3 linked regions of the Homo sapiens genome follow. Each later gene encodes a partner of the first gene's protein in a complex. Each region holds a gene or a part of one and is shown on either strand. Other genes may lie near its edges.

Region 1 (7,514 bases):
GGCCTGGAGGCTGAGCTAGCGGTGGTGTCGGCAGGGTGGGCTCCCCGCCAGGGCCGCGAGGGAGCTGCCTTCCAGGCCTCTCCACGGCGCCGGGGGCCGCCGGCTGCACCTCTCCAGCCTCCATCTCCGTCATCCTGTGGCCTTGTCCCCGCGGGCCTCTGTGCCTGTCCTCCTCTTTTGACAAGAACACCGGAGATACACAAAGGTACACAAAAGCGGGCCTTTGTTCAAGCTGGCAAAAGAGATCTTCTTCAGAAACCCCTGCTTGCGGGGGAGAGAGCTGAGCTCCGTTCCCGCCCCAGCAGAGGCGGCCTGGCCTTGCGAAGGGAGAAGGAGGGAGTCGGGAGGGGGCGAGTGCAGGCTCAGGTGAAAGATGACGGGGCAGCCAGCGTCCTTGCCGCGAGGCCAGCCGTGTGTGGGAGCTGCCGGTGCTTACCAAGGTTGGGATGCTTCCGTCCCGTGGAGACTGGGAGACTGGGCCCCGCGCCTCCTGAGGTTTCCGTTTCCAAGGAGTGGCTGCGGGGCCCTCGGGAAAGCCCCTGGGTTGTGGGTGCTACACAGATGTCTCAAAGGGACAGGGTAAGCCCTTTGTAGTAAATGCTGTCAGAAAGGGAGGTCAGGTGTTGGCCGGAACAGACAGTACATGCTCTGGGCAGCCCTGAGCGTTTCCAGACGGGAACTCACTCAAAAGGGGGCTGGGGCGTCCCAGGGGCGCGGCCTTAGGCTCCCAGAGGCCCCGCGAGGTGGTGGCCGGGTGTCTTCGGGCAGGGGTTTGAGTGCAGTGTGCCTGCCGAGAGGTTCTGCAGTTCCCAGTGTTTAACAAAATTCAGTGTCCACTCTTGATCTGCACAAACTCTCCCATCCTGGCGGCCCCGGGTGTGGACTGGGGCCTGTGTTTACTTTGCCCTATTCGTGTCTGGCCTCCTTTTGTCCCAAGTCTCAGAGAGACGGAGAGAGATCCCCTGCTGGGGCTGTAGCTGCAAGGCCACCGGGTTCAGCCCTCGAGGCCTGCTTGCCGGGGCAGTGACTAAGCCGTTGACAACCTCAAGGCAGCTTTGTGCTCCTTCGTCTCTTTGGGGATCTCTTTTTGCCCCATCTGTGTGTCACCCTGTGGCAGAGGGTTAAGGTGGGCAGCTGGGGAGGGTTGGGTGGCCCTTGGGCTCATGAGGCCCTAGGGCACCCAGGTTTGGGGGTGCCGAGGGCAGGAAAAAAGGCCTCATGGCGCGCAGGCCTCAGCCGCTTGCGGGTTGCCCCGGGCTTGCGGATGGCAGGAGTGGGCCGCTGGGGAGAAAGCAGTGCTGACAGGAAGTGGCTTTTTATCCTGCAGCAGATGGCTGAGGACAAGGCCTCTGTGAAAGCCCAGGTGACGTCCTTGCTCGGGGAGCTGCAGGAGAGCCAGAGTCGCTTGGAGGCTGCCACTAAGGAATGCCAGGCTCTGGAGGGTCGGTGAGTCGGGGGAGCCGGCTCCGGAGACCCCTTCCAGGGTTTCCAAAAGCAATGAGGTGGGTTTAGGGGCCTCCAGGGTGCTCCTTGATGAGGATAGACCGGGGCAGGCTGCGTAAAGACGTCGGGGCAGACGTCGGGAGAGGTCTGGGCCAGGCATCCGGGACCTGGGTCCCAGCCGGCTCTCCGCACTCTGTGACCCTTTGATGGAGTTTGGATTATTTCCTTAGGAGGCATTCTGGGGGCCCCGAGCCCACACCCACAGTGTCTAGTTCTCTGGAAGGACTTCTGGGACCGGCGCACAGTCGCCCTCGTGGCTGAGGTTGATGACAGGGAAAAAGGCACAGGGCAGGAGCCGCCAGGGCAGGAGCCGTGGGGGGAGTTGGAGAAGCCCTGTCCCAGCCTCCCGCTGCCCTGCGAGCGGCACAGTGAGAAGCGCCTCCCACACGGGCCGTGTTCCTGCCCAGGGATGCCCGCTAGAGACTCAGCGCCCTGGGTGTTTACTGGGGGCAGGTCCTGTCAGCGCCCTCTGCCAGGCAGGTACCTAAATCCCCGACTCCCAGCAGCAGAGCGGGTGCTCACGTCAACCACGTTCTTCCTACAAATGGCCTAGGTGCAGGGACCGACCTGACCACTAGAGAAAGTGTCACTGTGGCAAGGGAACTTCACCAGCCAAGGGCCAACCTTGCCAGCCGGTGGCCTCAGGCCTGCTGGTTACTCTCTTTTGCAAAGGGGTCTTGGTTCTTGTGAGTGGGACCATTGGGTCAAAGGGCAGGGAGGTTTCTGTGGTTCTCATTCGGTCCTGCTTCTGCCCTCCAGACAGATGGATCAGCTGCCAGGGGGGCCCCAGCCATCCCAGCACAGTAGGCGGTCAAGGTGCACTTGGGGCAGCCAGCAGGGCAGAGGGGAGGGGAGCTTGACCCAGGCTCTGATGGGCAGAGGGAACCCGTGCAGGGTGTGGGGGCAGTATGCAGGCAGGCGCGGAGGGGAGAGCCAAGCAGCCAGGCCTGCCAGGCAGAGTTGGGGTGACTGGAGAAGGGCCGTGTCTGCCTGTGGCCAGAGGCCACCCAGGACCTGGACAGATGCACCCACCATTGTCCCTGCAGTGAGGCTGTGGAAGGGCTTGGTGTGGTGGGATGAGGCCAGACCCTGGAAACTGGAGGTTAAGGGAGCTGTAGGGGGGCAGGTGTGGGAACTGAGCATCCGAGCAGGTCGTCTGGGACTCCAGCAGAGCTCTGGGCAGCAGCAGGGATGGGGCCGAGGCCCGGTCTGCATTGAGCTCAGTGCTTGCACGCCCAGGTGGGCAGTCTCTCATTTTTGGAACAGCAGTCTCTCCTGACCCCCTCCACTGAGACTGCTTTTGCTGGGGCCCCCAGCAGTCCCCCAGTGGAACTCCACGGGCAGTTCCGAGGGCTCCTCTCACCTGGCCCCAGCACTGCGGGATGCAGGCGACCCCATCCTTTTCTCGGACCACCCCCTTCCCCTGGCTTCCAGGTCTCCTTGCCATCTGTACTTGGTCACCTGCTGGGCCCCTGCATTGAAGCAAACACGTCTTAAGCAAAGCTCCTCACCTGCTGCTCCCACCTGGCCCCCTGCAGTTGTCCTCGTGTCTGTTGACGGTGCCTCCACCCTGCCGCCTGGCATCAGCTCGCAGTCACAGGGTGTTCAGAGCCGACCCCCACCCCCCGCCCACGCCCTGCGCATAGCCCCTGCCGTCCCCCCGTTCGTCCTCCCTGAGTCTGCTCTTTCCCCGTGCCAGGGCCCGGGCGGCCAGCGAGCAGGCGCGGCAGCTGGAGAGTGAGCGCGAGGCGCTGCAGCAGCAGCACAGCGTGCAGGTGGACCAGCTGCGCATGCAGGGCCAGAGCGTGGAGGCCGCGCTCCGCATGGAGCGCCAGGCCGCCTCGGAGGAGAAGTGAGTCAGCGGGGGCGGGGCCGCACCGCAGGGTCTGTGGTTCTACACTTGATCTTAGCCGAAAGGCTGAGAAGTGTCGGGTCCATGGTTCTTTCTGCCTTCTGAGGACTCCTTCAGATTCTGCCTGTGGCTGTGGGCCCATTCTGTCCCTTAGCCTTGCTAACGGTAGAGGCGACCATGATGACACCCGGTTTGTCTTTGATACAGTCATGCCATCTGCTCTCCAGACCACGTTTCACTGCGTGTCCACACGTGGCCTTTTTTGTAGTTTTTTTTTCCTAGCCACTAGGTCATCAGGGGACTTGTCCTTTAAAACCCCTTCTAGGCCAGGTGCTGTGGCTCACGCCTGTAATCCCAACACTTTGGGAGGCCAAAGTGGGTAGATGGCTTAAGCCCGGGAGTTCCAAGACCAGCCTGGGCAACAGAAAGACAACAAAAATACCCCCAAACCCCCCCGTCTACCAGCATCCAATCTGGGACCTCAGGTTCCTGTCCTTGGCGTGCCTTTTCAGTCTCCTTTAATCTAGAACAGTTCCCCTGCCTTTCTGAGCTGTTTGTGAAGTTCACAGTTTTGAACAGTGCAGGGTAGTTCCATTGTATTATTACTATTATTTTCAAGACAGGGTCTTGCTCTACCGTCCAGGCTGGAGTGCAGTGGCATAATCTCGGCTTACTGTACCTTCCGCCTCTTGGTCTCAAGCGATCCTCCCAGGTAGCTGGGACTATAGGCGCAGGCCAGCACACCTGGCTAATTTTTGCATTTTTGGTAGAGGTGGCGTTTTCCTATGTTGCCCGGGCTGGTCTTGAACTCCTGAGCTCAAGCGATCCTCCTGCCTTGGCTTCTCAAAGTGTTGGGATTATGGGCGTGAGCCACCGCGTCTGGCCGCGATTTTATTATAAACATTAAAAATACTAGCTTTTAGGAAAACGATATTAACTGCCTGGTGACCAGCCCACCAAAGCCTGCTTTAGAGTTGACGGCCTCAGGAGTCCTCACACAGCCTTGGAAGACCCCATTCCAGGCCTGTGATGCGAGGGAGGGAAGGAAGGGGGTAGAGTTGGAAGCAGGCAGCACCGTGGCTGGACTGGCATGAGGTGGTTTCTCCAGCAAAAGCTCCCTTTCCTCAGGAGGAAGCTGGCCCAGTTGCAGGTGGCCTATCACCAGCTCTTCCAAGAATACGACAACCACATCAAGAGCAGCGTGGTGGGCAGTGAGCGGAAGCGAGTGAGTGCGACCACTGGGGCTCTAGGGCTGGCCTTGCCTCTTCCTCTCCCCGTGGCCCTGAACCTTGAGAATGGGTAGACCTGCCTTAGACTTGCCTTAGACCTGTGTCAGGCTGCAGCTGCGACAGCTCAGGGAAGCTGTGGGGAGATGGCAACCCCAGGATGTTGCTCTCAGGAGTGTCAGCAGGCCATCTTAATGGGGGGCTGGGCCAGAGCCTTGGGGTGCTCCCTCTGTGGGGCTGGGGACGTCTTGTCTCCATGGACATTCCCTCTTGCCAGCCATCGCCATCTGGCACCTGGCTCAGCTTCCCCCAAGCCAAGGTAAGCCCGACAGCATTTCCACCCCAGTGTTGGCTGGGAGCCTTTTCCTAGTTTGTCCTCATCAGACCTAAGCTGGGGTGCAGTTTGCTAGTGATCACATTTTAGCAGGACACCGTCAATCGTAAGTGTACCCAGAGGAGATTTATAAGGACAAAGCCTGAAGCCAGGTCACATGGGGAAGAGTTAGCTACAAAACTGGCCACTTAATCTCTGGAGGGGGGCGTTGGTGGGGTGTGTCTGTGTGTGTCTCAGGGGGCTGGAGATGCCTGCGTGGGAGGAGTGCACCTCTGACCAGGTGGCAGAGTGGAAGGACTGAGGGCTCTCAGCTGAGCTGTGCACATGGCGGGCACAGGACCGGCTGGCTGTGAGTGGGTGTGGCCTGTGGCCTGTGAAGGGTGGGAGGAGGGCTGTGGAGCTGGGGATTCTGGGAAGGGAATGTCGGCCCAGCTGGGAGGTTGTACCAGATGACCTCAGCGGCCTCTTCAGTCCTGAAAAAAACCTCAGCATCTCCTCTGTCGTTTTGGGCCGTGACAGGACGCAGCCATCTCCCTGTGCACGCTGAGATCCTGCAATGGGCCCTCAAATCAGGGGCTGGCATCACCCAGCCTGGTCAGCCAGGGCCACTCTTTCATCCTTCTCAGTTCTTCTCAGCCAGCCTCGCCCTGGGCTGACGAGGCTCCGTCAGCTCCCCTTGCCCGTCCTTAGGGAATGCAGCTGGAAGATCTCAAACAGCAGCTCCAGCAGGCCGAGGAGGCCCTGGTGGCCAAACAGGAGGTGATCGATAAGCTGAAGGAGGAGGCCGAGCAGCACAAGATTGTGATGGAGACCGTTCCGGTGCTGAAGGCCCAGGTGAGGGCCCTCCTCTCTGACCCACCCTGGCACTGGGACCTGGAGAGTCTCTTTGGCGTCTTTTTTTTTTTTTTTGCTTTTGCTTTTTGAGATTGAGTTTTGCTCTTGTTGCCCAGGCTGGAGTGCCACTAGTGGCACGATCTTGGCTCACTGCAACCTCTGCCTCCCGGGTTCAAACAATTCTCTTGCCTCAGCCTCCTGAGTAGCTGGGATTACAGGCGCCTGCCGCCATGCCCGTCTAATTTTTGTATTTTTAGTAGAGACAGGGTTTCACCATGTTGGCCCAGCTGGTCTCGAACTTCTGGCCTCAGGTGATCTGCCCACCGCAGTCTCTCAAAGTTCTGGGATTACAGGCGTGAGCCACCGCACCCGGCCTCTTTGGCATCATTTTGTAGTGGCCTTTCGTAAGCTTCTGAGCCACTTGTGCTGCTCCTTAGACCTCTCGGTGAGCTTGGCATTACTCGCCGACGTATCTGTTTCCTCTGCGCCGCTGGGGGCTCTGGGAGGACAGCAGTGGGTTCTGCTTTGTTCCTGTGGTGCCTGGCGCAGTGCCTGGTGGGTGGCTGGCTTGTGGCGGGCACATCCCTTTCTGTTGGATTTGCCAGGCGGATATCTACAAGGCGGACTTCCAGGCTGAGAGGCAGGCCCGGGAGAAGCTGGCCGAGAAGAAGGAGCTCCTGCAGGAGCAGCTGGAGCAGCTGCAGAGGGAGTACAGCAAACTGAAGGCCAGCTGTCAGGAGTCGGCCAGGTGGGCCTCTGAGAGCGTGCCCGTGTGAGCAGTGGGTGCGACACTGGGGGGTCGCCAGTGGTGACCCCGCAGTGGGTGCGACACTGGGGGGTTGCCAGTGGTGACCACAGGAGACGGATGGCTCCTGGTGTTCTGGGTTAGGGCTCACTGTGGTCCCTCTCCTCTCACCTGAGCTTCCAAGAGCTGCTTTGACACTAGTCCAGCCAAGGAGCTTTACAGAAATGCGTGGCTTGACTGGACGGTTTCTGTTTCCAAAGGATCGAGGACATGAGGAAGCGGCATGTCGAGGTCTCCCAGGCCCCCTTGCCCCCCGCCCCTGGTGAGTGAGCGAGAACTGGGCCTGCGGGAGGAGGTGGGTGGGGAGGGCAGGTGCTGCGCCGCGGGAGGTCACAGTTCGACCTTCCTGTTGCTCTCTGGAGACTTGACGGCGGGAGCTCGTGTAGGCCACCCCATCGGTAGCCCACCCCCTTCCCCGAGGCTAAGGGAGGCATGCCGTGGTAGCGGCGGCTCCTGGTCTTACATGAGTGGCCTGTGAGACCAGGCCTGCCATTGACAGTCCTGCCAAGTCTCCGTCCCCCTCCATCCTCCCCTTCCCTCTGACTCTTCTCTTTTCCCAGCCTACCTCTCCTCTCCCCTGGCCCTGCCCAGCCAGAGGAGGAGCCCCCCCGAGGAGCCACCTGACTTCTGCTGTCCCAAGTGCCAGTATCAGGCCCCTGATATGGACACCCTGCAGATACATGTCATGGAGTGCATTGAGTAGGGCCGGCCAGTGCAAGGCCACTGCCTGCCGAGGACGTGCCCGGGACCGTGCAGTCTGCGCTTTCCTCTCCCGCCTGCCTAGCCCAGGATGAAGGGCTGGGTGGCCACAACTGGGATGCCACCTGGAGCCCCACCCAGGAGCTGGCCGCGGCACCTTACGCTTCAGCTGTTGATCCGCTGGTCCCCTCTTTTGGGGTAGATGCGGCCCCGATCAGGCCTGACTCGCTGCTCTTTTTGTTCCCTTCTGTCTGCTCGAAC
Region 2 (8,073 bases), on another chromosome or scaffold:
ATCAAGATACTAATTTATAGTTATATAGCATTTTATAGTTAACAAAATATTTGAAATGGCATATTTTTTTCAGCTGTACAAGAAAGGTAGTTCTATTTTCCTTTTATATTTGAAATAGGCTCAAAGTTTGCCCAGGGAGCTTAGGTTCTTTGACTTATAGAGAATTCATGATTTGTTTCTAACTCTTCTATTTACTGTAACTTCAAAGTGGAAAATGAACCATATAAATGTGTAATAGAATTATTTCTAATATATCAAAATAAGTAAAAATAAAAATATAAAGCAATGGCGATTAGAAGGCAGCTTGTGTGTGAGTGTGTCTGTATGTAGTTATTCTTTAGTCCTAAGAGCCAAGATAGTTGTTTTGTTGACATTGGGCTTGTGCTGCTGTTACGTGGGCCTGAGTCCCCTAGAAGGAGAGGCAGAGGAATTTTAAATCAGAGTGGGTATGACTAGGCTCCTGACTCTGCAAACTCATGTCTAGTTGAGGTGACAAAACTACAGTTTAAGGCAGGTTGTAATCACAGCTAATATGGCACTTTGACTGTGTTATCTCTGTACCTCACAAAAACCCTGTATGGTGGGTGTTCTTATTTGCATTTCATAGGTGAGGAAATCAAGACTCAGAGATGAAATCATCTGTCTAGATCATAGATAGCAAGTGGCAAAGCTGGAAATGGGATCCAGTCTCTGATCTTTCTCACACCAGGGCCTGCCCTTTTTCTATGTGGTGTTGCTTCTCTAAGTACCAATAATATAGTTCCAAGTTTTTTAAGAGAGGGAGAAGCAAGTGGGGTTTGAAGGATCAGGAAATATATAGTACCTGAGCTGGTCATTTAAAACGGGTATGATTTTGATCAATAGTATGGCAGAGATGGCACTCAGGGCAGGAGAGCAAAGTCAGAGAAATTTGCATACCTCCTTTGGGTGATGTTGAGGAGAGCTCAGGCTGATAGTTTCCATTTTGACTTCTTTGTGCTATTTCTGCAGGGAGGTCCTGGCCAGTGAAGCCATCCTTAATGTTCCTGATAAGTCTGACTGGAGGCAGTGTCAGATCAGCAAGGAAGACGAGGAGACCCTGGCTCGCCGCTTCCGGAAAGACTTTGAGCCCTATGACTTTACTCTGGATGACTAAAACAAAGGGAAGAACTTTTTATGAACTCCACAGGAAGTAGTAAAGCTTTTTTTTTTTTTTAATTAAAAGAATTTTTTTTGAGACAAAGTCTCGCTCTGTCACCCAAGCAGGATTGCAGTGGCATAACTGTGGCTCACTGTAGCCTCAACCTCCTGGGCTCTAGAGTTCCTCCCACCTCAGCCTCATGAGTAGCTGGGACCACAGGCGCATGCTACCATGCCTGGCAAACTTTTTTGATTTTTTATAGAGACAGGAGGGTCTCCCTGTGTTGCCCAGGCTGGTCTGTAATGCCTAGGCTCAAGGGATCCTCTGCCTTGGCTTCTTAACCTGCTGGGATTACAAGCATGAGACACCATTCCTGGCCTAGAAGCCTATTTTTAAAGAAACTACAATCTCCCATGGGGACTGTTTCCCTGCCTCTTTTGTGCAGTCCCATGGAACTTGCCTACAGCAAGAGGCCTAAGATTGAATCTTTTTGGGGAAAAGTCATTCTAGGATGAAAATCCTATGTTAAGGCCGGGCGCAGTGGCTCACGCCTGTAATCCCAGTACTTTGGGAAGCCGAGGCAGGTGGATCACCTGAGGTGAGGAGTTTGAGACCAGCCTGGCCAACATGGTGAAACCCCGTCTTTACTAAAGCTACAAAAATTAGCTGGGCGTGGTGCCAGGCACTTGTAATCCCAGCTACTCAGGAGGCTGAGGCAGGAGAATTGCTTGAGCCTGGGAGGTGGAGGTTGCAGTGAGCCAAGATCGCTCCATTGCACTCCAGCCTGGGTGACAGTGAAACTCCATCTCAAAAATAAAAGAATAAAAGTATGTCTGTCATCCAGCTCCTATGTCTGTTATCCAGCTCCAAGTACAGCTTGTGTATATCAACATTTTCAAAAACCTTTAAACTACCAAATGAAATCCAGATGTTTTTCCATGGTTGAGAAGTGTCTTGTGTTCATGTTGCCTGTGACCGTTGAAATGAAGTAGTATGTGTAATAGCAGGGGCTAGAGCTTTAGGCCCAGCTGTTACTCCAAAATCACACAGGGCAGTTTCTCCCTGAACAACCCAAAGTGGAAAAGGGATCCAAGGCTTTTGCTATTTTTCTCTTAAGCATTCATCTTATTCATAGATAAGAGCCCATTTAGTCCTTCGGATATTTAACTCCTATGTGCCAGGCATTTTTCTAAGCTCCAGGACCATAGTCATGTCCCAATATGGTCCCTGTTGTCCCAGAGATTACAGTTTAATGGGGAATAGAAGGGACAGATTTAAGAAAAAAAAGATAATTCTCCTTTGGATATTGTTTTAGGTGCTTGATATATCTAATATGTGTCTGTTGTGCTGCTGGGCAGTTCTAAACTCATCAGTACCTGGGTTGGTTACAGGGCTTTGGGGATCATCAGGGTATAGGCCATAGGTGAAATTAAGATAGGGTAAATACAGTCCTGAGCTGAAGATGATTACCTGAGAAATATCAGTATTTAAGGAGTGCTTGAAAATAGTGATCTAACATTTACATAGAGAAGGAGCAAAGAGAATGCTACATATTAGGCGCAAAAAGAAAAATATTTTTACCTTTATATTGGGCACTTATGGTCCAGACACTGTTTCATTTAATCTTCACAAAATCTCTGTGAGGTAGGTATTACCTCTATTTTACTCATGAAAAAAAAACTGAGACTCGGAAAATTGAAGATTGTGGAGCCTGGGGTCAACAGGCTTAGGCTTTTTAAAAAACAGGCCAGGTGGCTCATGCCTGTGATTGCAGCACTTTGGGAGGCTGAGGCAGGCAGATGACCTGAGATCAGGAGTTTGAGACCAGCCTAGCCAACACGGTGAAACCCCGTCTCTACTAAAAATGCAAAAAATTAGCTGGGCGTGGTTGCATGCGCCTGTAATGCCAGCTACTCGGGAGGCTGAGGCAGTAGAATTGCTTGAACCCTGGAGGTGGAGGTTGCAGTGAGCTGAGATCACACCATTGCACTCCAGCCTGGGTGACAAGAGTGAAACTCCATCTCAAACAATAACAACAACAACAACAAAAAACAACTCAAATTACTCATGGCCCTGGGAATGGGGGCATTTAAAAAGTTAACCAAGGGAACCAACCTGGTTTCCACAAAGATGGCCACTTCTGGGTCAGCCCAATCATCAGTATCCCTGGGTCCTCAGCATCCCTTCCTACCTCTTTTGACTGGGAATTACGAGATTACAGCCCCACCTACGGAAATTGAGCACATTAGCACTGGCCATGCTGTACATACAGCAAATGAGAGGGCTTCATACTGTTACAACAATCTGTACCACAATTCTCTGTGCGGTCTGCCCAGCTCTAAATGACATGTCCTCAGAGGCATCATCATCTCCAAGTCCATGGAAACCATGCACTTACAGAAACCAGAACCTCCCATACCACATGTTACTAATGACCTACAACATCGACTTCGTCTGTATCATGCAGTGCTCAACATTCTGGTTGCAGCATCACATTTATCAATAATTTGATTCCATGCTGATTCCTTTACTTGGAGTATTGAGATCCCCCAGGTACAGTGAAGGTATGACCCTCTTAAATGGAAGACCAGGAGTTGTTTCCCCTATGCTATGGCAATCCGCCACCCGGAAGCACTTGCTGCACCAACAGCATTCCCAAAGCTTGCCTCTGCAGCCCTGTAGCACCCATTAGAAACACTTCTCACAATGAACTACTGTGCTGGCAAACCCATAACTGGACTGCCGGACAGCAAGCTCTGTGAGGCATCTAGGAAAAAAGCTCGCGAAATCCCGAGAAACACTCTTCACTCCGGAATAGCGTCACATTCTTGAGTCATTTGGGATGACAGGGGATATCCTGGAGCAGGTGTATTGGGAAGTCAGTGAACAAGAAGGCTAATTCATTAGTGGGCCTGCTAGCGTAGTATTTTAACGATTTCGCAGCCTTTAAATCATTGGTGGTCTTTAGCGTGCCGGATCAGCTGGTGGTGGAGTTGGAGGATAGATGGCAGGGATCTGAAGAAAGGTGAAGTGTAGATAGGAGTAGAGACAATATGAAGTTTAGAAAAGACTAATTGCTGGACGCGGTGGCTCATGTCTATAATCCCAGCACTCTGGGATGCCAAGGTGGGAGGACTACTTGAGACCAGGAGTTCGGGACCAGCCTGGGCAACGTAGCAAGACCATGTCTCTACAAAAAATAAAAAATTAGCCAAGCGAGGTGGTGCGCGCCTGCAATCCCAGCTACTCGGGAGGTGAGAAGATCGCTTAATTCCGGGAGGTCGAGGCTGCAGTGAGCCGTGATCGTGCCATTGCACTCCAGCCTGGGCAACGGAGCGAGACCCCATCTTAATTAAAAAGAAAAAAATACAGGAGAGACTGGGCTGCTTTGAAAAGTGGATTTGACGGGAATGTGGGGTTTGGAGAGATCTTATGTTTTCCAAGACTAGAAAAACATTGTGGTTCCGTTCAGCCCTCCCGGAAAATACGTAGGGGACTTAAAGAGCGGACCGAGTACCTGTTTGTTTCCCCATCCCTTAGCCGGCAGGGCTCTGGCAGCGCCCTGGGAGAACTTAGGGAAGGGCCTTCTCGCAGCGGTTACCGGAAGTGACGCATTCATTCTCGCGAGAACAAAGACGCGCGAGCATCGGCGGCCCGGAACCGGCCTTGGAACAACTGTGGAACCTGAGGCCGCTTGCCCTCCCGCCCCATGGAGCGGCCCCCGGGGCTGCGGCCGGGCGCGGGCGGGCCCTGGGAGATGCGGGAGCGGCTGGGCACCGGCGGCTTCGGGAACGTCTGTCTGTACCAGCATCGGGTGAGGCGGGGCGTGAGAGGGAGCGGCGGTGGGTTGGAGCGGCGGTGGGTTTGAGCGTCTGTGGAACACAGGGCTGACAGTGTGGGATAGATGGTTGGTGGGACCTTGGGCAGTATTTGGGGGCCAGTGGGCTTGTGTGTGTGTATTAGAGAGAAAGATACTATGCCTGTGTGTCCAAAGTTGTATTTGAGGTACTGGGCATAGATAGAGCTGTTGCGGGGAACTTGGGTATGACTGTCAGGCTGTGACCAGGTGTTTAGTGAGTGTGACAGTGCGTGTGTGTCTCTGTGAATGTGGAGTGTCAGGGTGTGTGAGGCAGATGCACGTCACAGTGTGTATGTAGGAGCACGAATGTGTGAGAAGAGGGCTGAAGGGGACTGCCTTTGGGAATGTGTGCGTCCGTGTGTGTGTGTGTGTGTGTGTGTGTGTGTGTGCGCGCGCGCGCGCGCGCTTGGAGGCCATATGATATCAGTGGGGACTGGAGTAGACAAGGAAGGCTTCATGATGGGTCCAGAGTTAAGCCTTTGGAAGCATGGATGGGCTTTGGAATTGGGGATGTATTCCAGGTCGGGACAGTATGAGGGTGAGTTGGTGCAGAGCATGGCTTCAAACGAAAGGCTATATTAGTAGATGGAGATGGGGGGCGCTCTAGTAGGTGGAGGACAGTTAACATCAGACTCAAGAATTTTACTTTGATTTAATAGAGAATGTTTAACCATTGTAGTAGCAGTTAAAAAATCATATTTGGGTCTTGTTTGTTTGTTTTTGTTTTTGAGACGGAGTCTCACTCTGTCGCCCAGGCTGGAATGCAGGGCGCGATCTCGGCTCACTGCAGCCTCCTCCTCCCGAGTTCAAGCGATTCTCCTGCCACAGCCTCCTGAGTAGCTGGGATTACAGGCGCCCGCCACCGTGCCTGGCTAATTTTTTTGTATTTTTAGTAGAGACGGGGTTTCACCATGTTGGCCAGGCTGGTCTCGAACTCCTGACCTCAGGCGATCCACCTGTCTCAGGCTCCCAAAGTGCAGAGATTATAGGCGTGAGCCACGGCACCAGGCCTGGGACATGTATTTTTTGATATACCGATAAAAGCTGTGAACCCTTTCCCCAGAAAAATGCACAGATGCACATTCACACAACCATGCATTGCCATTTGAGAGGTTCGTGCCTTCCTAAAGGACATTTTAGGTAAATAGACCCTGGACTAATAATTCCTGTAATATAGGCTTTGTTTTGTTGCCTGTAAAGTAAGTATAGTATAATAATTACATGCATCATGGATTTGAGAGTTAAATAAAATAGTAATGTGTGTAAAGCTAAATACGGTACCTGACCCATGAAAGCCCTCAACTGTTAGCACCTGCTGCTACTTTGTTGTTGTTGCTGCTATGATCATAATGCTCCTCATTAATTGGCCTTAAGGAAATGTCAAGATAAAAAGTGTTGTTCTAGGAAAATGGTTTTGTAAAGGATAAATTTGAGTGGAACAACATATGGGACAAGATGAACAGGTAAGATCTTACTAAAATGCCTGGGCTTGGCTTGTGAATAGAGAAGTTAATTCAAGAGGAAAAGTAATAATTTGTTATCTAAAGGAACATGGGTGTAGTGAGAAAGCTCGTAATTTGGGGTGGGAGAAAGGGGAGATAGGAGTCTACCTTGGGAAAATAGGCATATTTAGGGTAATTAGAATGACAACTGAAACTGTTAGAACTGAGGAAGTTTTGTGAACCAGGTTTCTAGATAGGGCATAGGAGAAAATCTTGGAGAAAGAGAATGGAAGGTGAAGGACTAAGGCATTAAGTCCTGTGATAGCAGGATAAGTAGTAAATTTAATAATTCTCACCATCAGAGGGAACATAACACACTAAAAAAAAAAAAAAGTGGGAGCCAAGTGCTTCCAGTGGCATGTTGCCTGTGTTACCTAAGCCTGCCTATCCGCCTGGTCATAAGGAAAAAGGATGCATGCTGGCAGCTTTTGTGACTTCTTTTCTTGGTCCCTGGGTGGGGATGGATGAATTAATCACTTTTTGTTTTATTATGGTAAAGTATACATAACACAACATTTATCACTTTATTTTTAAGTGTACAGTTAGGTGGCATTAAGTACATTGACGTTGTTGTACAGCCATAACCCTATCTCCAGAATATTCCGACTTTTTTGTTGTTGTTGTACATCTATAAACTTCCCATAGAATATTCTTTGTGAAAAGGTAGAATTTCACAGAGTTGATGAAATATAAATTAAGGAGTTGAAGGATCTTACAAAGTGGGATTTTTGAAATAGATAACTTATTGCTCCATTAACATGAGCATTCAGGGCTCAGTGTTGTTCATGGTTGTGCCTGATTCTCATTTCCATGGTGGTAAAGGCCTGCATGGGACATAGATATAACTGGTCACCTGCTCATAACAAAAGGAAGATTGAAGGGAGTGAGAACTGTGGGTAGGCTAGCATGCAGTCTATCCTAGTTTCCTTCTTCTCTATGCACCAGGTATCATCTTATCTCTAGCTTCTTTTTTCCTCTCACCCTCCAATTCACACTACCCTATCCAAGCTATGTCTTGCTTCCCCACCTATAATATATTTTTTCTGTCCTGGCCCCTGGGCTCTTCTCTCTGTATTCATACACAGCCTTTATTACAACTCTGGTTTGTGTCAGAGATTACATATGTTGGAAATTCTTTTGAACTCTCCTTGTGATATCAGAAACATAGTGTAGCCTGTTTAGCCCTGACTGCTATTTCTGAGCTGCATTATTAATGTTGCCAGAATATGATGGGGTCTGGCTATTTCCTGTAATATGCATCAGAATGGGTTTAATTTCAGTCAGAATTGGCTAAATTACTAGTCACAGGCAAGAGATGTTAGGTTCATTATGTAGCTATGGAAGCAGAAGTACACTCATTGGTAGGATTTTTTTTCTTCATGTCATTTGAAATGCATACATTAGGATTGGAGTTTTTTGCTTTAGGCTTGGTTATATTAAAACTTTCTCTTGCTGTTTGGAGTCCAGGAAGCCCTGAATTACCTTCTTCATTTTAGTTATGCTAGAAGCTGGGGCACATATTAGTTGTCTTGATTAAGCTCTGAAAGGGGTTTGCTGAGGAGACAGGATCTTTTTTTTTCTAACATTATATA
Region 3 (7,514 bases), on another chromosome or scaffold:
TCCTGCTTCCACCATGAGCAACCATCTCCCTCTCTCCTTCCCTTTGCTCTTAAGGGAAACTGACACCTAAATCACTCTTTCATCCATGTCACCTTCTCTGCAGCCTTTCACAATGGGGCTTGCAGTCCCAACAGCTCTGGCTCCCACAACACGGCCAGGCCTGCCCGTCTCAGTTCTTGGCTGTTTTGTTTCCCATTTCCCCACCATGTGGCATCCCATGGACTCACAGCTACGTTAAGACGGTGTGCACAGAAAGCGTGGCTTACTGCACTGAGGGCAGTGCAGACGCAGACGATGGTCAACCAAGTTGCACTGCCGTGCATGACGGTGGGCTGAATTGGTGGCCCTAAGAAGGATATGCCCACATCCCAACTCCTGGAGCCTGTGAGTGTGACCGTACTTGGAGAAAGCGTCTTTAGAGAACCTGAGATGACATCACCCTGGACTACTTGGGTGGGACTCAAATCCAATGACAAGTGTTCTTGTAAGAGTCACCCAGATAAGGGACACAGGGGTCCCATGAAGACAGAGACAGAGACTGGAGTCACACACCAAAGAACGCCTGGAACCACCAGGAGCTGGAAGAAGCAAGGACAGTCCCTCCCCAAGAGCCCTCAGAGGGAGCTCAGCCCTGCTGACACGGGACTTTCAACTCCTGGGCTCTAGAGCTCAGATAACACGTTTGTTTTTGTTTTTAGTAGAGACAGCTCTGCTGCCCAGGTTGGAGTGCAGTGGCATGATCACAGCTCACTGCAGTCTTGAACTCCTGGGCTCAAGCAATCCTCCCACCTCAGCCTCCCCAAATTGCTGGCGTTACAGGCATGAGTCACCATGCCTAGCCCAAATTTCTGTTGTTTTAGCCCCTCAGTTTGTGCTAATCTTTACAGTAGCCACACGAAAGTAATACACAGATGAATGAAAACAATTAGCACAGGCCCTTCCTCTGACCTCCCCGCTTACACCAAGTCAAAGAACAGCGACGTGAAGCCCGAGCAGCAGCTGAGTGGGCTGCTGGTGGCTCTGTGGTGTCCCGTGTGGGATGGCGGCAGTGCACAGAGGTGGAAAGGCACAGGAGGCTGCTAGGCCAAGGGCCCGGGACCACAGCACTCACTCACACAAGCAATCTTCAGGAGATTCCAGAGCTCCTTCTGCCGCTTCTCCTGCAGCCGGACAACAGTCTTCTCATCCTCATTCATTAAGCTCACCACCTCTTCCACCTTGGGCAACAGTTCCAGCGCCTTCTGCTTGCAAACCACAGTTTTACTGCAAAGAATAAACATGGCAAACTAATGGCATTTGGGCTGGAGAAAGCAGAACCTGTGGCAGCTGTGCATCCAGTCAGCAGCTGCAGAAACTCTCTTCATGAGGTCCAGCGAATCAGAGAGGAGGGAGGAAGGTGACCTCATACCTGCATCTCCCAGTCCTTCCTCCAGAGCAGGAAGGTCGGGGCTCATACCTGAGCTGCGTATAGATCACTCGCACTTTCTTCTCGAAGCTCTGAATTGCCTGAAGCAGCAGCCGTACCATTTCCTGACTGTCACCCTCAGTTCGCTGGTCTGGAGAGAGGGAGGGTAGCATAGTTCCTCAAGGAAGCCAGCAGAGAGTAGTGATGCCCCATAAATGAGATAAGGAGAAGCCCAAGGCAGACACAGAACCCCACTTACCTCGAGGTTTTTCCCTTAGTCTCCTGTACAGCTCCCTTGCTTGCTCCTCTCTAAAATATACAAAGAAGTTCTGTCTAGACTTGAGGTCAAATATGGCTAATTTTTACATTTTTTTGGTAGAGGTAGAGTTTCACCATGTTGCCCAGGCTGGTCTCGAACTTCTGGGCTCACAAGCAATCTTCTTGCCTTGGCATCCCAAGGTGCTGGGATTACAGATGTGATCCACTGTGCCCAGCCAAAAACATTTTTTTTTTAAATTAGCTGAGCATGGTGGCATGCGCCTGTAGTCCCGGTTACTTGGGAGGCTGAGATGGGAGGACTGCATAAGCCTGGGAGGTCGAGGCTGCAGTGAGCTATGATTGTGCCACTGCACTCCAGCATTGGCAACAGGGCAAGACCCTGTCTCTTAAAAAAATAATACAAATACAAATAAAAGAACTAGAGGAGAATAAAGGGTTAATTAGAGAAAATACAGAATCAAAGTTCTGACATTTGGAGCTCCTGTCCTAAGAATCCTAGTGAGAGAATCAGGGAACACTGCTGAGCTCACGGTGACACAGCCCTCAAGCGGCCTGCCTGGTTCCCTCCATCTGTACGCCAGGAGCACATGTGATCTCCTTCAGGTAGGAGTGATCTGCCTAGACCCCTCCGCCCCTCATGGAGCCAATGCCAAATACCTGACAAAGACTCAAACGAATAGTTTCCAGGTCCAAACTCCTAAGCCTCATCAGGTTCTTCCTTCTCTGTTTTACTTTCTGCTCTGAGCTATGCCTGAGTCAGGGTGGGTGGAACAAATCAGGGGAGTCTGCTACAGGGGTAGAGGCTGCTTGCATTTTACAGCCTTTACAGATTATGGCCTGCGTCTCAAATGCATTATCTGAATTCATCCTTACAACTTCGTGACTTAAGACTGTTTTTCTTGTCACTGAACAGATTTGGAAACTGAAGCTCAGTGATGATTTGCTGGAAGTGACCCCACAGGGAAGCATGCTCTAGAGAATGGTCCCGCACAGCCACTGAGGGTGCCCTTGACACACACACCGAAGCTCCAGGGCTGTCTGTGTGTGCTGGGCACAGAGGGGCCCCCCAGCCAGTACTCACAGGTCGTCCAGCGTTCCCCCCTGCTTCCGGCCCATGGGGCTCCTCTGTAAGTCCACAATGTCGGTCTGCAGAGCCATCATCCGTTCTACCAGGAGTTTCACTTCGTTCTCCTAATGGAAAAGCTGTGCTAATGTCAACTGATGTGGTAGGCGCATGCTGAGATGCAAGATCTGCGGGGGAGCGAGACCAGGGGACCCGCCACATTCCCTGAGGACCCTCAATGGACTGGCTCAAAGGAATGTGGACTGTGGGGTCTGAATGGCTGCGCCTGCATCTAGGGTCCACCGCTTTCTAGCTGTGTGACCCCTTGGCAAGTTACTTACCCCCAGCTACAGTTTCCTTTTGCATAAAATAGGCTTCTAACAGGGCCATCTGAGGAGTCAAGTAAGATGAAGTACTTAAAGCCTCTGGCATGGTGCCTGGCATACAGAAGATGCCCAAGACACATTACTTTCTCTTCTCTTCATCTGTCTATCCTGATGCTACCCGGGCAGGGAGGCCCAGACTGTTTTATTTCACAGATTATGAGTCCCAAGATGGGGAGGAGCACTCAGCCCTTCTATGGTTAATATTCACCATTAAACACACATATACTCCATCAGTACTGATTCATAAAAATCGATACTAAGACACAGGTGAAGATCCTTGCCCAAGTACACAGGGGAAAACAGAGGATAAGTCCAGGAAAAAGCCCCGGAGCCTGACTTCAACCTTCAGTTTGTGTGAGGTTCATTAAGTCACATGTATTTCCTTTGCCTTCATAATTAACTTTTTTTGGTGACATCTGATTTACGCTGCCCTGAGACTTTCTGCCTAGACCTTTTATTTCCTATGGATTTAGCATCCCAACAAAATTAGTCAAAAACCTTCGACAAGAGGGAGTGTTGATCATCCATCCAATGCCCTTCCTAACAGGAAATGGTCTTGGCTTTTCCCCAAGGGAACCTAACCCTTGCTTCTTATTTAAACCTGGACCATCTCTGTCCATTCATGCAGCTCTTGCATCTGGCCACAGAGGGGCTCCCTTCACTGGCTACTCTCTTGGCCTCTTTTCAGCTGGTCCAGTTAAGCTCAAAGCATGGTGAGGAACACCTGATTTTTGACAGAGATCGACCCAGTGTTTGATGAGAAAGTGAAAAGTGGGAGCACAAAATCTCACCCCCTTGGTAAGTTCCGAAACCCAAAATGAGTCTCCTACCCGCCCACAGAGCTCCACAGCCTGCTCCATTTCCCTCCAGGCCAGCAGCAGTTTATCTGATGCTGAAAAAAAATTGAGAAGGAAAAACAAAACAAAACAAAATAAAAACACCACAAAACTGAAACAGAAATAAGCAACTCAATTATAATAGGACAAAAGAAACCTTAGAAAGAGAAAAAGAAAAAAAAATGGTGTCTTTAAACTCATTGCAAAGTGCACACTCACTGATCCCAAACTCGGTTTGCTCGCTGTACTTCTCCAGGTCAATCTGGATGCTGGTTTTGAAGAAATCCAACTTGGCCTTGAGCTGCTGAGACATGGAAGCCATGGAATTCTTCATTTTGGAGAGGCAGCTGTTGTTTCGGAGGAGATTCATCCTGCAGGGACCACAAGGAACAGTCTTGGAGCATCTCTGGGATCCAAATTCCATTTCCTGTACAATAACAAAACCCCCTCAAATGTCAAGGGAGGTCCCTGCTATAATTATTATCATCATCACTATTATTATAGCAGCCACTTATAACCCAAGGACAATTTCCTAGCCCTCAGCAATGCCTGAGGTTCTGCACTAAACTTGACATCAGGCAAAGGAAGACACAAAAGGCCAATAATGTTGGCAAACGAGTCACAATGAGGAAAGAGTCCGTAAGTCCCCAGCAGCACGGTCAGGGGAGTTTTGCTAATCCACATGGTAGTGAGCTCCTCTGGGTTCCCAAACCAGCCACAGCTTGGCCAGCCCAGCTTCAGTTCCACACTCCTCACCCTGTGCCAACCACACTCACCTCGCCAGGTCTAAAGGGGCCTCCGTCAGTCCAGCCCACCCAACCGCTTCCCGTCCATCCAAACCAGTGTCTTCCTTTTGTTGCTCATAACGGTTGCTTCTGGGTCCCTGCCTCAACCACCTCCCTGTGGCCAAAGCCACCAAGGAATTTTAAATAAATTAAGTTTAAAAAAAAAGCCTGGCACGCTACATGGCGGCTCGCTGTCCCTGCTGCAGCCGGTTGCAATCTTCCTTCAGGGTCTGGATGCTGTGCCAGACCTGGCCCCACACCTTCCTCAGCTGGAAGAAGGCGAGATTCCTCTTGGGCTCTTGAACTGGAGACAGAGACACAAGCAATTGTCAAAGAATAACCACAATAACTCTCCTACAATTAACCATATCCTGCCTTCGACACTACTGGCACTTTCACGTTTTGTACCTACTATAGGATCATGTAACTTTGGAGGGTGTTATGCCTGGTTACTGTCACATACATGTATTTGTACCAACAGCATGTACCAGTGGTCAATAAGTAGCTGTTGATTTGAAGGAACACTTTACGAACCATTGGACACATATGTATATAGGGCCATATATTTTCAACAGAATTTTTTTTTTTTTTTTGAGACAAGGTCTCGCTCTTGTCACCCAGGCTGGCATGCAGTGGGGGTGATCATGACTCACTGCAGCCTTGAACTCTCAGGCTCAAGTGATCCTTCTGCCTCAGCCTCCTGAATAGCTGGACTACAGGCATGCACCACCACATCTGGCTAATTTCTAAATTTTTAGTAGACTTGCGAGCTTACTATATTACCCAGGCTGGTCTTGAACTCCTGGGCTCAAGTGATCCTCCTGCCTCAGCCTCCCAAAGTGCTGGGATTACAGGTGTGAGCCACCACGCCCGTCCTAGGAGGTTGAAATTAACTAATGGTTTCCTGTACTCTCTCTTGCCTGGCTACTCCTTGCATGTCCTAAATAAGGAAGGCTGCCCTGAGGACTGGCGATATTAATTTCCTTTACGTGGCTCCCCCTTCCTTAGTCCAGTCTCCCTTCCCTGCCTTGTCCCACATATTATAACGGATTATTTAGAAAAACAAAACATAACAAATTCTTACGGATACAGCTGACACTTTCAGGTTGGGGCCGTGGGGAGATCTGAGTCTCATAGGTGATTTTACTGTTGTCAAAGAGAAAAACAAGATCCATGTCCAATGTGTGGCCCTCATTTAACTGCAAAGGGACAAGGACAAAATGAATCTTGTGGATCCAACCCTCTCTTTTCTAACTGATAATGAAGAAGTTCCACAGCTTTCCCCACTGTTCAGCAAGAGCATCATCTTCAGCCAGCAAGTAGGAAGCATCCATGAAGTGTTTAACGTTTCCAGCCACACTTACTGTCTGAACACACTCTTTATTTACAAACGTATTACATTCTATTTTACTCTCTGTCTTCCCTGGGAAGTTCAGAAATTCACTATATACTTCCCTATGCAATGATTATTTCTCATATGATAACTTTAGCTCCACAAGTCAGCTGAGAAGGTCTTTTTGAGCAGAGGTCATGTCTTACACAGCTATAGTTAACACAGGTGCCTAACCCAGTTCTGTACACAGAGGCCATCATAAATACTTTCAGTTGACTCAAGAAAGTGCAGCATCCTTTTTTTTTTTTTTTTTAGTACACTTGGAAGAGGGCCAAGCAGGCAACTTGAGAGATTCGAGTGTTATAGCATCATTTTTTGCAATAAAGGCAAGAGACCGGTCTTGGAGGGTTTGGAAGTAACAAGTCCAGCAAGGAGATTTGTGTTTCCTATCAGGCCACACAGAGGACACCATACTCCAACTTAAAAACCAGCCAGGTATCCGCACTGTGTGATTAACAGACTACATGACAAAGCAGAATTGAAATCTGAAAGTGTGTTGAGTTTCCCAGGAGGCACAGCCAAGGTAAACAGGATGGTGTGTACGAAGCCAGGGCTCACCTTGCCGTCTGAAATACACTGAGTGGCAGGCTTATCGGGGATCAACGCCAGGCCCGCTTCCTGCAGCAGCTCCTGGTCCTCCTCTGGGATGCCCGTGTCCTGTTGGATTCTGGCCTTCAAGCTCTGCAGACTCTCATCCTCTGTCACAGGGTAGGTGTGGATGGTGCCCGTGACCATGTTCAAGATATGAACCAGCTGCAACACAACCCAGATGTTACTGGAAAACCGATTTCTTCAAGGAAATGCCCATCTATTTGCCTAGGTCCTCTCTCTGCTACTCCCAACATTTCCCAACCACACAAAGCAAGGGCCTAGCTTGAGGGAGGGAGGTCATGTGCCATGTTTCGCATATTTGCATCTTTCATAATCCTGTCTGTGGCTATGACCTCATAGCCAATGTCAATTAGCACAACTGTCCTTTCTTTACTTATGCAGAAAGACTGATGCAGGAGCCTAAATTTCCTCACTAGGTCAGCTGGCCCCATCCCCTGCTCTGTCCTAAGAACTGCATGTTCCACTGGGGACCCCAGCTTTTGCCTCAGGGCTAACTTGGCTCCACACTCACCTTTAAGTTTAAGATGTCATCCAGGGCCTTGAAGCAGCCATTGGGCCCATACGTGGGATCCGTGCCCCTCTGTCGGGGGTGCCACATCAGCATCAGTTGCAGCCACTTCTCCAGTCGCTCAGCCAGGACACTGTGGAGAGGAGCATAGTGTGTGAGGAGACACTTCCAGCCAATGTTGGGCTACAGTGTGCGTCTCCCAGTATACACACAGACGGCAGCCAGTAGACGGTGATTGAAAATGAAA

The links. The genes of interacting proteins can lie anywhere in the genome.
Region 2: IKBKG (region 1) and CHUK share a complex: the UniProt entries of both Homo sapiens proteins name them as parts of the I-kappa-B-kinase (IKK) core complex.
Region 3: the proteins of IKBKG (region 1) and IKBKB are in contact, whole or in part, in a crystal structure (PDB 3BRV), measured with the Homo sapiens proteins. Residues at the interface, in NP_001093327.1 of Homo sapiens: Arg62, Ile65, Arg66, Asn69, Leu72, Arg73, Arg75, Cys76, Leu79, Phe82, Gln83, Gln86, Lys90, Leu93, Met94, Phe97, Ala100, Arg101, Val104; in NP_001547.1 of Homo sapiens: Ser705, Leu708, Glu711, Ala712, Leu715, Cys716, Leu718, Leu719, Ala722, Ile723, Asp725, Thr726, Glu729, Gln730, Gln732, Phe734, Leu737, Asp738, Trp739, Trp741.

What each region holds. Positions count from the first base shown.
Region 1 is NC_000023.11:154,557,205-154,564,718, forward strand, and holds part of IKBKG (NF-kappa-B essential modulator), read left to right. Parts: intron 1-1,327; coding exon 1,328-1,446; intron 1,447-3,202; coding exon 3,203-3,355; intron 3,356-4,483; coding exon 4,484-4,580; intron 4,581-5,605; coding exon 5,606-5,749; intron 5,750-6,354; coding exon 6,355-6,497; intron 6,498-6,754; coding exon 6,755-6,816; intron 6,817-7,114; coding exon 7,115-7,257; 3' UTR 7,258-7,514. UniProt on the Homo sapiens protein: Regulatory subunit of the IKK core complex which phosphorylates inhibitors of NF-kappa-B thus leading to the dissociation of the inhibitor/NF-kappa-B complex and ultimately the degradation of the inhibitor.
Region 2 is NC_000010.11:100,226,289-100,234,361, reverse strand, and holds the start of CHUK (inhibitor of nuclear factor kappa-B kinase subunit alpha), read left to right. Parts: upstream 1-4,765; 5' UTR 4,766-4,829; coding exon 4,830-4,934; intron 4,935-8,073. Other genes in the region: CWF19L1 (CWF19-like protein 1), read left to right, coding at 991-1,135.
Region 3 is NC_000008.11:42,316,096-42,323,609, reverse strand, and holds part of IKBKB (inhibitor of nuclear factor kappa-B kinase subunit beta), read right to left. Parts: intron 7,401-7,514; coding exon 7,271-7,400; intron 6,901-7,270; coding exon 6,706-6,900; intron 5,954-6,705; coding exon 5,839-5,953; intron 5,059-5,838; coding exon 4,935-5,058; intron 4,341-4,934; coding exon 4,189-4,340; intron 4,026-4,188; coding exon 3,964-4,025; intron 2,876-3,963; coding exon 2,766-2,875; intron 1,715-2,765; coding exon 1,665-1,714; intron 1,557-1,664; coding exon 1,457-1,556; intron 1,264-1,456; coding exon 1,116-1,263; intron 1-1,115.